Homo sapiens: one gene and its partners. The protein of the gene in region 1 purifies or fractionates together with the protein of each later gene. This does not show direct contact. Each region holds a gene or a part of one and is shown in the gene's direction. Other genes may lie near its edges. The genes, in order: SRMS, HEPHL1 and CLPB.

Region 1 (3,750 bases):
AAGAAAAGAAATGGTGGGCAAAAGCCTCACCTGCACGTGAGGAGACGGCGGTGGGTGTGGGGAGGAGACGGCGGCGGGGGGAGTGGAGGGGAGGAGACGGCGGGGGTGGGTTGTGGGGAGGAGACGGCGTCGGGGGCGGGAGGAGACGGGCAGCGGGTGGGGGGAGGAGAGGGCGGCGGGGGCGGGAGGAGAGGGCGGCGGGGGGAAGCGCGGGAGGAGAAGGCGCTGGGGCCCCTCGAAGGCCACCCCCAATGTAGTATTTACAATTCTCCACATTTCTCAACACCCCCCACCACCCCCAGCAGGGCACCTCTCTGGTGCAGAGCCTGCCCTGAGCCTGGCGATGTCCAGTCTCCCAGGGCCCCTGCTGGCTCCAGGCTATCAGCCCGGACACAGCTTGGCTGCTGGGGTGCCCTGAGAGCCAGGCCACGGGTGTCACTGCCACCCCACAATGCACACACCAGTCCCCAGACGTGAGGTTTCTGAGAAGCCCATCTGTGACTCCAGGGCAGGCAGGTGCGAGGGGCTTGTCATTGGCTGGACACTGGTCACGCCTATTGGAGGGATGCATTCAGCCACACGCATGAAGTGGGGGCATGGATGCGTGTGAGATGTGGGAAAGGGGCGTGAGGCTCCCTGAAGGCCACCCAGGTGCGGAAGGGGCTGCTGGGGGAGGCCGGCAGGAGGAGTGAGAGACTGCAGATGGCCTCACCCCACCCCCGTGCCTCAGGACCCAGAGGGGAGGTGGGAGGAGTGAGAGACTGCAGATGGCCCCCACCCCACCCCACTCAGGACCCGGAGGGGATGTGGGAGGAGAGAGAGACTGCAGATGGCCACCACCCCATCCTCCTGCCTCAGGACCCTGTACCGTGCTGCTGGGTTTTGCTGGGATTTGCTCCCCCAGTCCTGCCCCGATCTGGGGACCTACCTGAGCGGGCAGAGTTTGCTTCAGCATGCGGGGGCTTGGCGCTGTCCAGGGAGAGGGTGGGAGGTCCCCAGCCAGGGACTCACCCGCCGCCCCTTCTCCGTGTGCTCATCCCCCTGAACTGGGGCCAGGCGTCCGCAGCCTCCACTTCCCCGCAGTGGCCTTTGGGTATGGCCTGGGCATTGACTGACTCAGAAGCCGGTCATCGGGCAGCATGGGGCATCTGGGTGCCTGGCCTGCGGCCGAGCTCCCTGCAATCAGCATCTCGTTTTACTGCATGAAAGCCGGGGTGCTGAGAGCCCCCTCACTCGCCTGTCCTCAGAATTTACTGCAGAGGCCGGAGGCTCGGCACCTGGTGCAGGGTTAATGATGTTAAAATATCTGGCCAACACTTAAATAAGCAGGCAATTTTTCACCTGAGTGCAGCTCAGGCTTGGCAACCACTGCAGGTGCTGAACAGCAGCGCTTCTCCGTGGAACCCCCACTTCTCCGTGGGCACGGGCGGCTGTTGGACTGTGGTGCCCTTGGGCATGGGCCAGGCCTGACTGGGCAGAGCCATTCCGCCTGCCTGGGCCTTGCAGAGGGCGGGAGAGAGGCTGGCCCTGCCCACCCCGCCCTCCTCGGGCCCCTCCTGGAGCCCGCCCCCGCCCCAGCCCAAGCTGCCCTCTGCCGTCGGGTTGGGGAGGGGACGGTGCACTCCAGACGCCAAGGAGGTCGAGGACAGGAGGTGCTGTCGGTGTGCCTGAGGCAGGGGGTCCGCCCTGCGCCCCACCCAGCCCCAACGCCAGCCCGGACGCCGGTGGGAACCGTGTGCCTCCTGGATCCAGGGGACCTCTGAGTGACCGCAGGGCCGGGGTCCCCTGTCACCCCACGGCCAGGGCAGGGAGCGCTGGACACCGGGTCCCACCGGCCCTGCCAGTTCCTCTTCCGGGCTCGCGGGCTCCCATGGCCCTCGGGCCCAGCGTGGTGACCCCGGGGGATGGAGCCGTTCCTCAGGAGGCGGCTGGCCTTCCTGTCCTTCTTCTGGGACAAGATCTGGCCGGCGGGCGGCGAGCCGGACCATGGCACCCCCGGGTCCCTGGACCCCAACACTGACCCAGTGCCCACGCTCCCCGCCGAGCCTTGCAGCCCCTTCCCTCAGCTCTTCCTTGCGCTCTATGACTTCACGGCGCGGTGTGGCGGGGAGCTGAGTGTCCGCCGCGGGGACAGGCTCTGTGCCCTCGAAGAGGGGGGCGGCTACATCTTCGCACGCAGGCTTTCGGGCCAGCCCAGCGCCGGGCTCGTGCCCATCACCCACGTGGCCAAGGCTTCTCCTGAGACGCTCTCAGACCAACCGTGAGTACCTCGGCCTCGGAGTCAGAGCCTGCCTCGCCCCCAGCTGGGGAGTCCAGAACAACGGCAGGATTTTGAGTTGGAAATCGCATGTCCGTGGCTATCTGTTCATTCATTCGTTCATCCACGCATTCATTCAGGGACAGCTGATGGGCCCCGGGCCGGCAGGTGTGGTAGGAAAACAGCAGTGTCCGCTGTGGGCTGCCGAGAGGGAGAGGAGGCTCCGGCAGGCGTGGTCAGGTCCTGTGGGGGGGAGCATCAGCTGCACCAGCTGGACACCCAGCAGGCGGTTCCTCCAGGACCCTGCCTGGCTGGCCAGGCCCTCCCGCCCTCACACAGGGAGTCCAGTGTTCATGGATCGGTCACTGCTTGGAGGGCAGGGGCTGGGGGCTGGGAGGCACCAGATGACAGGAGCTCCAGGAGCTCTGGGTGACGGCAGGTGAGCAGGGGCTGGGGGCTGGGGGCTGAGACAGGGGCCCATGCTCCAGGAACTCTGGGTGAGGGCAGGTGAGCAGGGGCTGGGGGCTGAGACGGGCCCACGCTCCAGGAGCTCTGGGTGAAGGCAGGTGAGCAGGGGCTGGGACTGGGGGCTGAGACAGGGGCCCACGCTCCAGGAGCTCTGGGTGAGGGCAGGTGAGCAGGGGTTGCAGAGGCGCCTAGTCCAGATGCCCAGTGCGGCTGCTCTGAGCGGCTGCCTTGGTCTGGCATCCAGCTGGGCAAGGCCTGAGCCCTGGAGACCTTCGGGGTCAGCCTTGCTCAGGGCCACTTCCAGCCTCCTGGGGGCCCTTTGGCACTCACACATCGTCCTGGGGGTTGCATGGGCGGGTGAAGCCGGAGTCACAGGAAGGGGCCTTCTGAGGGGCCCCAGGCCCTCACCCCACACCTGCCCCGCTTGTCCTGAGCAGTGGTTGGGGGGCAAGCAGCCTTTGTGATGGGAAGGGGCTCACAGTCACCCCAGGTGTGGAGGACAGACCCCTTCAGCAGTTCCTGGAGGGCAGGGCTCGTGGTGGAGCAGGGCGGTCCATAGGCAAAGCTAATGACTATTTGCCTAGGCTGGAGATTAAAAGACTAACCACACTCAGGTGTCATTAGCTCCAGACACCTGGCCCCACGCCCCAGGGAGAGACCTCAGACACATCCTCTGCATCTCAGGATCCCACAGGGGCTCACCTCTGACCCCCAAGCCCTGATGTGGGCTTCAGAGGAGGCTGGCGATGTTTTGGGGAAACACCTGTGTCTCATCCCCACACCCCACGGTGCTGGGAGGGACCTGAGTCCCTTTACACGTGAGAGGGTTGCGTCTCCCTGCCAGCAGACCCCAGAAGGCAGGGGCCCTGGCTGCAGGAGGAGCTCCATGGACAGAGCGTCCATGGAGTCAGTGCCTCAGGCCGCTGCCTCTCTGTCCCTGGTCCCACACCTCTTCCTGTCTCCATCTTCATTCCCTTCAACTTAAGCCCAGCCCCACGGCCCTGGTCATGTCAGTTTCTATTCCT
Region 2 (3,650 bases), on another chromosome or scaffold:
TATTGTGGCACACGCCTGTAATCCCAGCACTTTGGGAGGCCAAGGTGGGAGGATCACTTGAGGCCAGGAGTTCAAGACCAGCCTGGCCAACATGGCAAAACCTGTCTCTACTAAAAATACAAAAATTAGCTGGTCATGGTGGTGGGCACCTGTAATCTCAGCTACTGGGGAGGCTGAGGCACAAGAATCTTTTGAACCCAGGAGACAGAGGTTGCAGTGAGCTGAGATTGTGCCACTGCACTTCAGCCTGGGTGTGACAGAGCGAGACTCCATCTCAAAAGAAAAAAAAGAGAGAGAGACTGGAAAAAGAGACCTAATCAAGTAAAGGAAAAAATTTAATTAAAAAAATCTAGACTATGGAAGATAATTAATATGTACAAGTTTTATTGATCAATTTATTTAAATTTACTAAAATAATTTAGAATTAATTGTGCTGCCTAAGTCATCAGGCATTTCAGCAACAATTGCTTTTAACTCAGTTCGAACTTAAGAAGGGATATTGTGACTTTTTAAAGCCCTGAATCAAGTTCTTTTCTGAACTTGGTCAACTCCCAGCTGCCATTTAGATGGTTTTAAAGTATTCGGTCCTGGATTTACGCCATAAACTTAATAAGATTCTGCTCCAGCAACATGTAGTAAAAACTGTTTTTCTCTTGGCTTTTTAAAGTAAACAAACAAACAAACAAAACAGTTCTCATAAATTCCTTTTAATCAATTCCTTTTCTTTCCATCTTACTACATGCTTTTGTCACTTCATTAAGTAGATACTATGTGCCAGTTTTTCTGCTAGGTCCTGATAACTGTTAAGATGAACAAGACAGGGTTTCTAGTTCCAAGGAGCACAGAATCTGGTGAAGACAGCAGATATGCCAGTGAAGGATTATGACAGAAGGTGACTGAGCCTCCTGTAAATATGAGCAGCACTCTGTTTTCTCCTGACCTCATATTGCGTTCCCACAGCAGCTCCGAGGCTGTTCTCAGTGTATGCTGATCTTCACTTTTATTGAGTGTTTTCTCTGGAAAAAGGCCAATAAAAACATTTCATTTCTCTTTTGGACAATATATATTTCTAAGAGCCAGGTTTTTCTGCACCAAAACCTTACAACCAATGGTCTGCACTGGTTTTCCAGCCATGCTTAAGCCCGTATTACCAACATTTCTGGTCCCAGTCGCCTCTGCAGGGGAGTCTCTTCCACTAGCGTGTTTCTGTTTCCAGCCCTCAATGGATACCTCTTCGGAAACTTCCCGGAGCCTGATATGTGTGTTGGAGAATCTGTGTCCTGGCACCTATTTGGAATGGGGAATGAAATAGACATCCATTCTATCTATTTCTATGGTAACACCTTCATCAGCAGAGGGCATCGGACTGATGTCGTCAACCTGTTCCCAGCCACCTTCCTTACAACAGAAATGATAGCCGAGAATCCTGGGAAGTGGATGATAACCTGCCAGGTCAGCGACCACCTACAAGGTAAAAAGGATAAAGACCAGAGTTGATATGTTTAGAATGGTACAATCAAACCACACAGTCACTAGTGCTCATCCAGTACCTACTGTTAGATAGAGCCTTGTATGTACTATATTTAATTAGGTAATAAATATACAGGAAAATATAACGCTCATCTCTTTGATATTCTATCAACAGATATTTATTGACCACTTCTGTATGAAAAAAGTGGGGAAGTGATTAAAAATTGATGAGACCTTCGAGGAACCTGTAGTATAGTTGTTAGACATAGTTAGACATTCACAAAATGAATACGATTTAAGGCAGAATGAGATAAATGCTCTTTGGGTGTTGCAGTCACTACTCTGGAGCAATCAGAGGGGCTTCCTGAGGAGCTGGCTCCTAACATGAGCCTTGAAATATGAGTAGGAACTGAATAGATGAAGAAGGAAAGAAAGACTTTTGAGGAAGCAGCATGAACTGGGAAAAACACATGTTCTTTTTGAGCAACTGTAAGTAGAGTAATAAGGTTTTAGCACTGGAAAGGACTTTCTGGATAATAAGGACCAATCCCCCCTCGAATTATTTAATTTCGTTTTGAACATCTCTTGTGAGTAGTTATAGCAGCTCATCTCATCTCTGGACTGCTCTATTGGAATGTTCTTCCTCAAATTGAGACAAAATCCATTGACCTATAGCTTCCTTCATGTCCTATGATAGGTGCATGATAAACATTTGTTGGCTTAAATGCCTGTTGAATGACCTGGTCCTGGTTTCTTCAGACATCATACACTATGTCCTTTCTTAGCTGGACCATAATGTTCCTTACAGAGAAGTGATGACAGAAGAGCCTGGGAGGCTCATCAGGCCCCTTAGCAAAGCTAAGGAGGTGGGGCTGTGTGATCCTTAGCTCTTTTGGCACACTAGTGACATAATCGGTGCAGTTATTTAAGAAGATAAATGTATGCATGCAAGAAGGACTTGATGGAGGAATTCTGACCACTGGATGCTAGTTAAGAAGCATTTGACAGTGTTAGAGGTCTAACACCTAAACGTCTGCCCTAAGATGATGAAACCAAGACAGAAAAAATATGTTAATGGAATAGACACAGAAGAAATAATGTCTGATATTTGGATACTAACTTCCCATAGTCACTAATAGGTGCAAAGATCCAGCTGCTCAGGGCTGCTTTTGTAACACATTCTTGTTCCTGTCCACCTTCCACAGTGAGTCATAGCATTAGTCAACTGCAGTATCCCAATTACATTCAACTGAAAAATTAATCAGTTAATATGTACTAGATGCTCTTCTGGGAAAACAAAGATTAACAAGAGAAGGTTTCTATTCTCAAAGAGTCTTATGCTGTTAAATCTGGGAAGAAACTGTAGATTTAAAATCAAGATATTAGCTGCCATTTGAGACTAGTAAGATCGCTAAATTAGCCCGATAGTTGTGGACATAAGCTAGTATTTATACGTTCCCTGAAATACAGTATTTCTAAATTGTCCATGCCTTCAGAAAAAAGTTATTGTAAAAAAATTAGAAAATACATATAATTGGAGGTTTTTTAACAAATAGAGACAGGGTCTTGCTATGTTGCCCAGGCTGGTCTCAAACTCCTGGGCCCAAGCAATCCTCCCACCTTAGCCTTTCAAAGTGCTGGGATTATAGGCATGAGCCACTGGATCTGGCCCCTATAAATTGGTTTTAAAATCAGTAGTTCCATAATAGAAATATTTTATATTCACATTTTGGTGAATATCTTCCCTATTTTCTATTTCTTAATATGTAAATATATATGTATTTTAAAAAATGAAATCAGTCTATTAATGCTGCACTGTAGCTAATTTTTCTCATTTACAAATATATCAGAAACACATTTTCATGTCGGTGAATATAGAGCTTACTTCATCATGGTTAATACTTCCAGTGTCCATTATAAGGAGATTACATCTTGCTTAATCAATACTCTATTGCTTAATGCTTATGTTTCCCACCAATTTTTTTGCTATTATAAACAGCACTGATGACTATTATTTATAGATGTTTGCACTTTTGTCTGAACATTTTCTTAGAAAAACTCCTAGATTTAGAATTTCTGGGTCAAAGAGTATGATTTTTTTAAAAAAGCTATGGACATACATTGCCACATTCTCTTTTGGAAATTGTTATTCTTCTACACGAAGTGTATGAGTATGGCTC
Region 3 (3,650 bases), on another chromosome or scaffold:
GCTTCAGGTTCCGGTGCTTCTACTTTCTACTGGCCCTAGGCAGGTAAACTTTACCCCTTGAAGTTTCAGCTCTCTTGCCTCAAGGTGAAAGCCCTCCAACCCATATCTTAGGTTATGGTGAGCATCAAGTGACGATGCTGTGTGCTCATCACTTATGTCATCACATCATGGTGAGCACACAGCAAGTGCCTATTCCTTGACTTGTATTTATTCGTCACTTCCTACTTACCATAGCAGTGCCCCATCTACTCTCCCATTTGATCCTATGGGGAAGATAGCATGGATGCTAAATTAGACCCACTTTTCAGATGAGAAAACTGAGGCCCTACAGCATTCTTAGGCTTATCTAAGGTCACCTATTAGGGGAAGAAATAAAACCAGAATCAATCCAGTCTCTCAACTCCTCACTGTGATACCGTTGTTCTCAGCTGCTCTAGGAAGCTGGATTGGAAACTTGCCAGTGTGTCCCCATTTCACATTGGGAGATGAGAGGCATGAGAAGCTCCATAAAAACAACCATGTATTTTATTTTTAAATCATAGGTGGTGCTTCTATGAAACTCCTGCCTGTGCTAGCCCTGTGGGTCAACTCATTATAGAATCTGTGTTTTGCGTAGACACTTTATAGCCACATGACAGGCATGTTTGAGACCTGCCTTCAAAATCCAAGAGAGCCCTGGACTTTAAGCTACGTAGCCAGTGTACCTGGGACCCAAAGAGTGATGTATGGAAAGTGTCATTCTCAGAGCCCAGTGTAAAATAGACTTTTACCAAACAGAAGCTCCCTTTAATTTGCCTCCCAAGACAGCTGACGAAATGAAATGAGCACTGGCCTGGAGTCTGATGATGTGAATTCTAGTTCTGGCTCTCTGATCCCTAGTTTCTTCATTTGTAAAGAGACACTGACACCTCCAGATCTTGCTGCTTCAGAAGCATTCTTTGTACATTTATATGATTTCTTTATCAGATCTGTGAACTTATTTTTTTCTCTCATTAGCCTGTATACTATTTCTTCCAAATTGAGTGGCTCTGTTAACTTTCCTTACTAGAGCTAATAAGCCTTGGGAAGGAACCTTAATGGTGTTCTGTGATATCATCATAAGGTAGGGTGGTGGAGCCCAAAAGACTTAGTTATAGTAGCAATATGATAAGGGATAAAGAACAACTATCTGAGTCCAGCTGCTTGGGTTCAAATCCCAACTGTACTCTACTAGGTGGAGTTGGCCAGGACCTCTGTTTACATCAGCTTTCTCATCTGTAAAGTAGGCTCCATAATGGTGCCAGTCTCACTGGATTGTTCGGAAGGTTAAATGAGATAGTGATGTAAAATGTTAAACGCCGTTCTTGGCATGTGGTAAGCAATCAGTACATGTTGGATGTTACTCTTATTGTTCTTGCCTCACTAAGATCATGTGAAATCAAAATGATGATTCCGGCCAAGAAAGTCAAGCCCAAAAACTTGTTCAAAATTACATAGCAAATCATTAGAAGAACTAGGGTGAGAACCCAGGTCACTTGACATAAGTAAGCACGAGAGTCTATAGTCCATCTGTCGTCCGACATTCATTGGCATCTGGACACAAAGCTCAGCACCCTTCAAGGTGAAGACTGTCAAGAGCCCAGCTGATTGGCAGAGAGGAAGCTATGAGGCAGTGTAGCATGATGGCTAAGAGCACAGACTTGGAGCTGAATTGCCAAGCGCAGGTGACCTTGAGCAAGTTACTTTAATCTGTGACTTAGTTTTCTCATCTGTAAAGTGGAGATGATAGTAGTGCTTACCTCAGAGACTTGTACATGTTCTAAGCCCTTTATAGCTTGCCTAAAACATTGCCAGGCACATAGTAAATACCCAGTAAATCCTGAAACCTGCAGATCTCTTGACTGAGCAGCCTAGGGACCCTCTGGAAATGCTTTCTGGCTTATGCCCCATGTGCTGATAGCAGTGCTTTCCCCCATGTGGCCTTAATAACTTCTCTAAGCCCTGTCCCACCTCTTGGATTAGATCCTCAGACCCCTGGTGAGGCAGGGAGAGGAGCCAAGAGCCTTCTGTAACACAGGACAAAACTGCAGCTCAAAAAGGGGAGGCAGCATGTCCAAGGCTCCACAGGCAGGCAGAACTAGGACTGGAACCCGAGCCCCCTGGCTCCCAGCCCAGGGTTCTTCTTGCCACCCTGTGTCTCAGCTGTAGAATGACAGGACAGAGAAAGAACTAAAAGTACATCATGGCGTGAATTTCTGACCAGTGGCCAAGCTAGAATATAGCCCTGGATTTCAGACATAGCTACCTCCCGCTGAGAATCTTGGCACCCCCATCATCACCGGCTCTCAGGAGAAGCAGGATTCAGTGAATGCTGTCTCTTAGATGGAGGCATGTGCCAGTAGGAGAGGAGCCCGGGGGACTGTGGGGAACTGTGGTCCTGGCTGTGGCTAGACAGGGCACCTGTGGATGCCTTTACAGCTCCCTAATCAGGTAATGCTTCTTGAAAACCAGTGGGCACTCTGCCTGTGTTAACTCTTCAGATCACATAATGCAAGCTGTTCTCTTCCCCAAGGGCTAACCATGGCCCTCACCCATGGGGCCACTTCCTCGGAAATCACCCCTACACCCTGTGGTGGAGAGAAAAGGGCTGTAAAGCTATGTTATGGATATCTTTTTTAATGAAATGAAGAAATGTAAATACATTTTAAAATATATTCATTTTGAAGAAAAGTAAATCAAAGGGACACGGGCATCACACAGACTTGCAGAGTTGAGAGGCATTCTGGAGCCATCTGAGTGTTTCTCTCCTCCCTCGCACCACAGTCCACACTGATCGTGACTGACTTTGTCCATGTCTGCACCATTCGATGGGGTGCTTCTTAAGGACAGAGACCAAGACTTGTTCCCTGTTGTAACTCCGGTGTCCAGCACACACAGGATGCCCTCAGGAAACGTGGAATGGATGGATGGGTGGGTGGATGATGTGGTGATCAGAACAGGAGAGGCCTCCCTGAAAGAAGACACCCCAAGTCAGATTTAGAAGGTCAGGTACATGATTTGGGTCTTTTAAGGAAGAGAATGAGGGACTCGTAGGAAATGAGTGCACAGAAAAGGAGACAGGAAGTCAGAAAAAAACATCTTGAGCGTGAGATAGAAGATCTTATGTTGGTGTGGTGTGAAAGCCTTGGGGATAGTTGAGGTGCTCTCCTCCCTAACCCTTCTCTTCACTTTCCTGCCTCCAAACGGAGTTGGTACTTGCTTGTTTCCACACAGGGCTTCATCAGGCTGGACATGTCCGAGTTCCAGGAGCGACACGAGGTGAGTGATGACAGTCCTTGATTGAAGCATGGTTTGGAGGGCTTGTCAGCATGACTGCCGGGGTCTTGTCATTTGGGCCTCAGATAATTCCAGCAGCCTTGGGATTTGTCGTTGGGAGCACAGGTGTGCAGCAGGGTCACTGATTTGTTTCACATAGGATTTGCTCTGAAGAATAAACATAGAGAAGATCTATCTGCCACACCAGGAGATGGACAGCCAATCATCTCTGTTGAGAGAGGCAACCTTAATAGCGTATAAAGTCATCTTCCCATGCATGCCCCATGTTGGAAACTAAAAGCACAGAAAGGCCTTCCTAGCATGTTTCCTTCCTTCTACCAGGTGGCCAAGTTTAT

The links.
Region 2: the proteins of SRMS (region 1) and HEPHL1 purify together in Homo sapiens (affinity purification with mass spectrometry; one large-scale study listed by BioGRID and IntAct). This does not show direct contact.
Region 3: the proteins of SRMS (region 1) and CLPB purify together in Homo sapiens (affinity purification with mass spectrometry; 2 studies listed by BioGRID and IntAct, with this or other methods). This does not show direct contact.

Annotation. Positions count from the first base shown.
Region 1 is NC_000020.11:63,545,618-63,549,367, reverse strand, and holds the start of SRMS (tyrosine-protein kinase Srms), read left to right. Parts: upstream 1-1,618; 5' UTR 1,619-1,904; coding exon 1,905-2,260; intron 2,261-3,750. UniProt on the Homo sapiens protein: Non-receptor tyrosine-protein kinase which phosphorylates DOK1 on tyrosine residues. Also phosphorylates KHDRBS1/SAM68 and VIM on tyrosine residues. Phosphorylation of KHDRBS1 is EGF-dependent. Phosphorylates OTUB1, promoting deubiquitination of RPTOR.
Region 2 is NC_000011.10:94,066,280-94,069,929, forward strand, and holds part of HEPHL1 (ferroxidase HEPHL1 precursor), read left to right. Parts: intron 1-691; exon of another isoform or gene 692-1,016; intron 1,017-1,155; exon of another isoform or gene 1,156-1,216; coding exon 1,217-1,471; intron 1,472-3,650. UniProt on the Homo sapiens protein: Is a copper-binding glycoprotein with ferroxidase activity. It oxidizes Fe(2+) to Fe(3+) without releasing radical oxygen species. May be involved in the regulation of intracellular iron content.
Region 3 is NC_000011.10:72,301,951-72,305,600, reverse strand, and holds part of CLPB (mitochondrial disaggregase), read left to right. Parts: intron 1-2,639; exon of another isoform or gene 2,640-3,252; coding exon 3,253-3,297; exon of another isoform or gene 3,298-3,636; coding exon 3,637-3,650. UniProt on the Homo sapiens protein: Functions as a regulatory ATPase and participates in secretion/protein trafficking process. Has ATP-dependent protein disaggregase activity and is required to maintain the solubility of key mitochondrial proteins.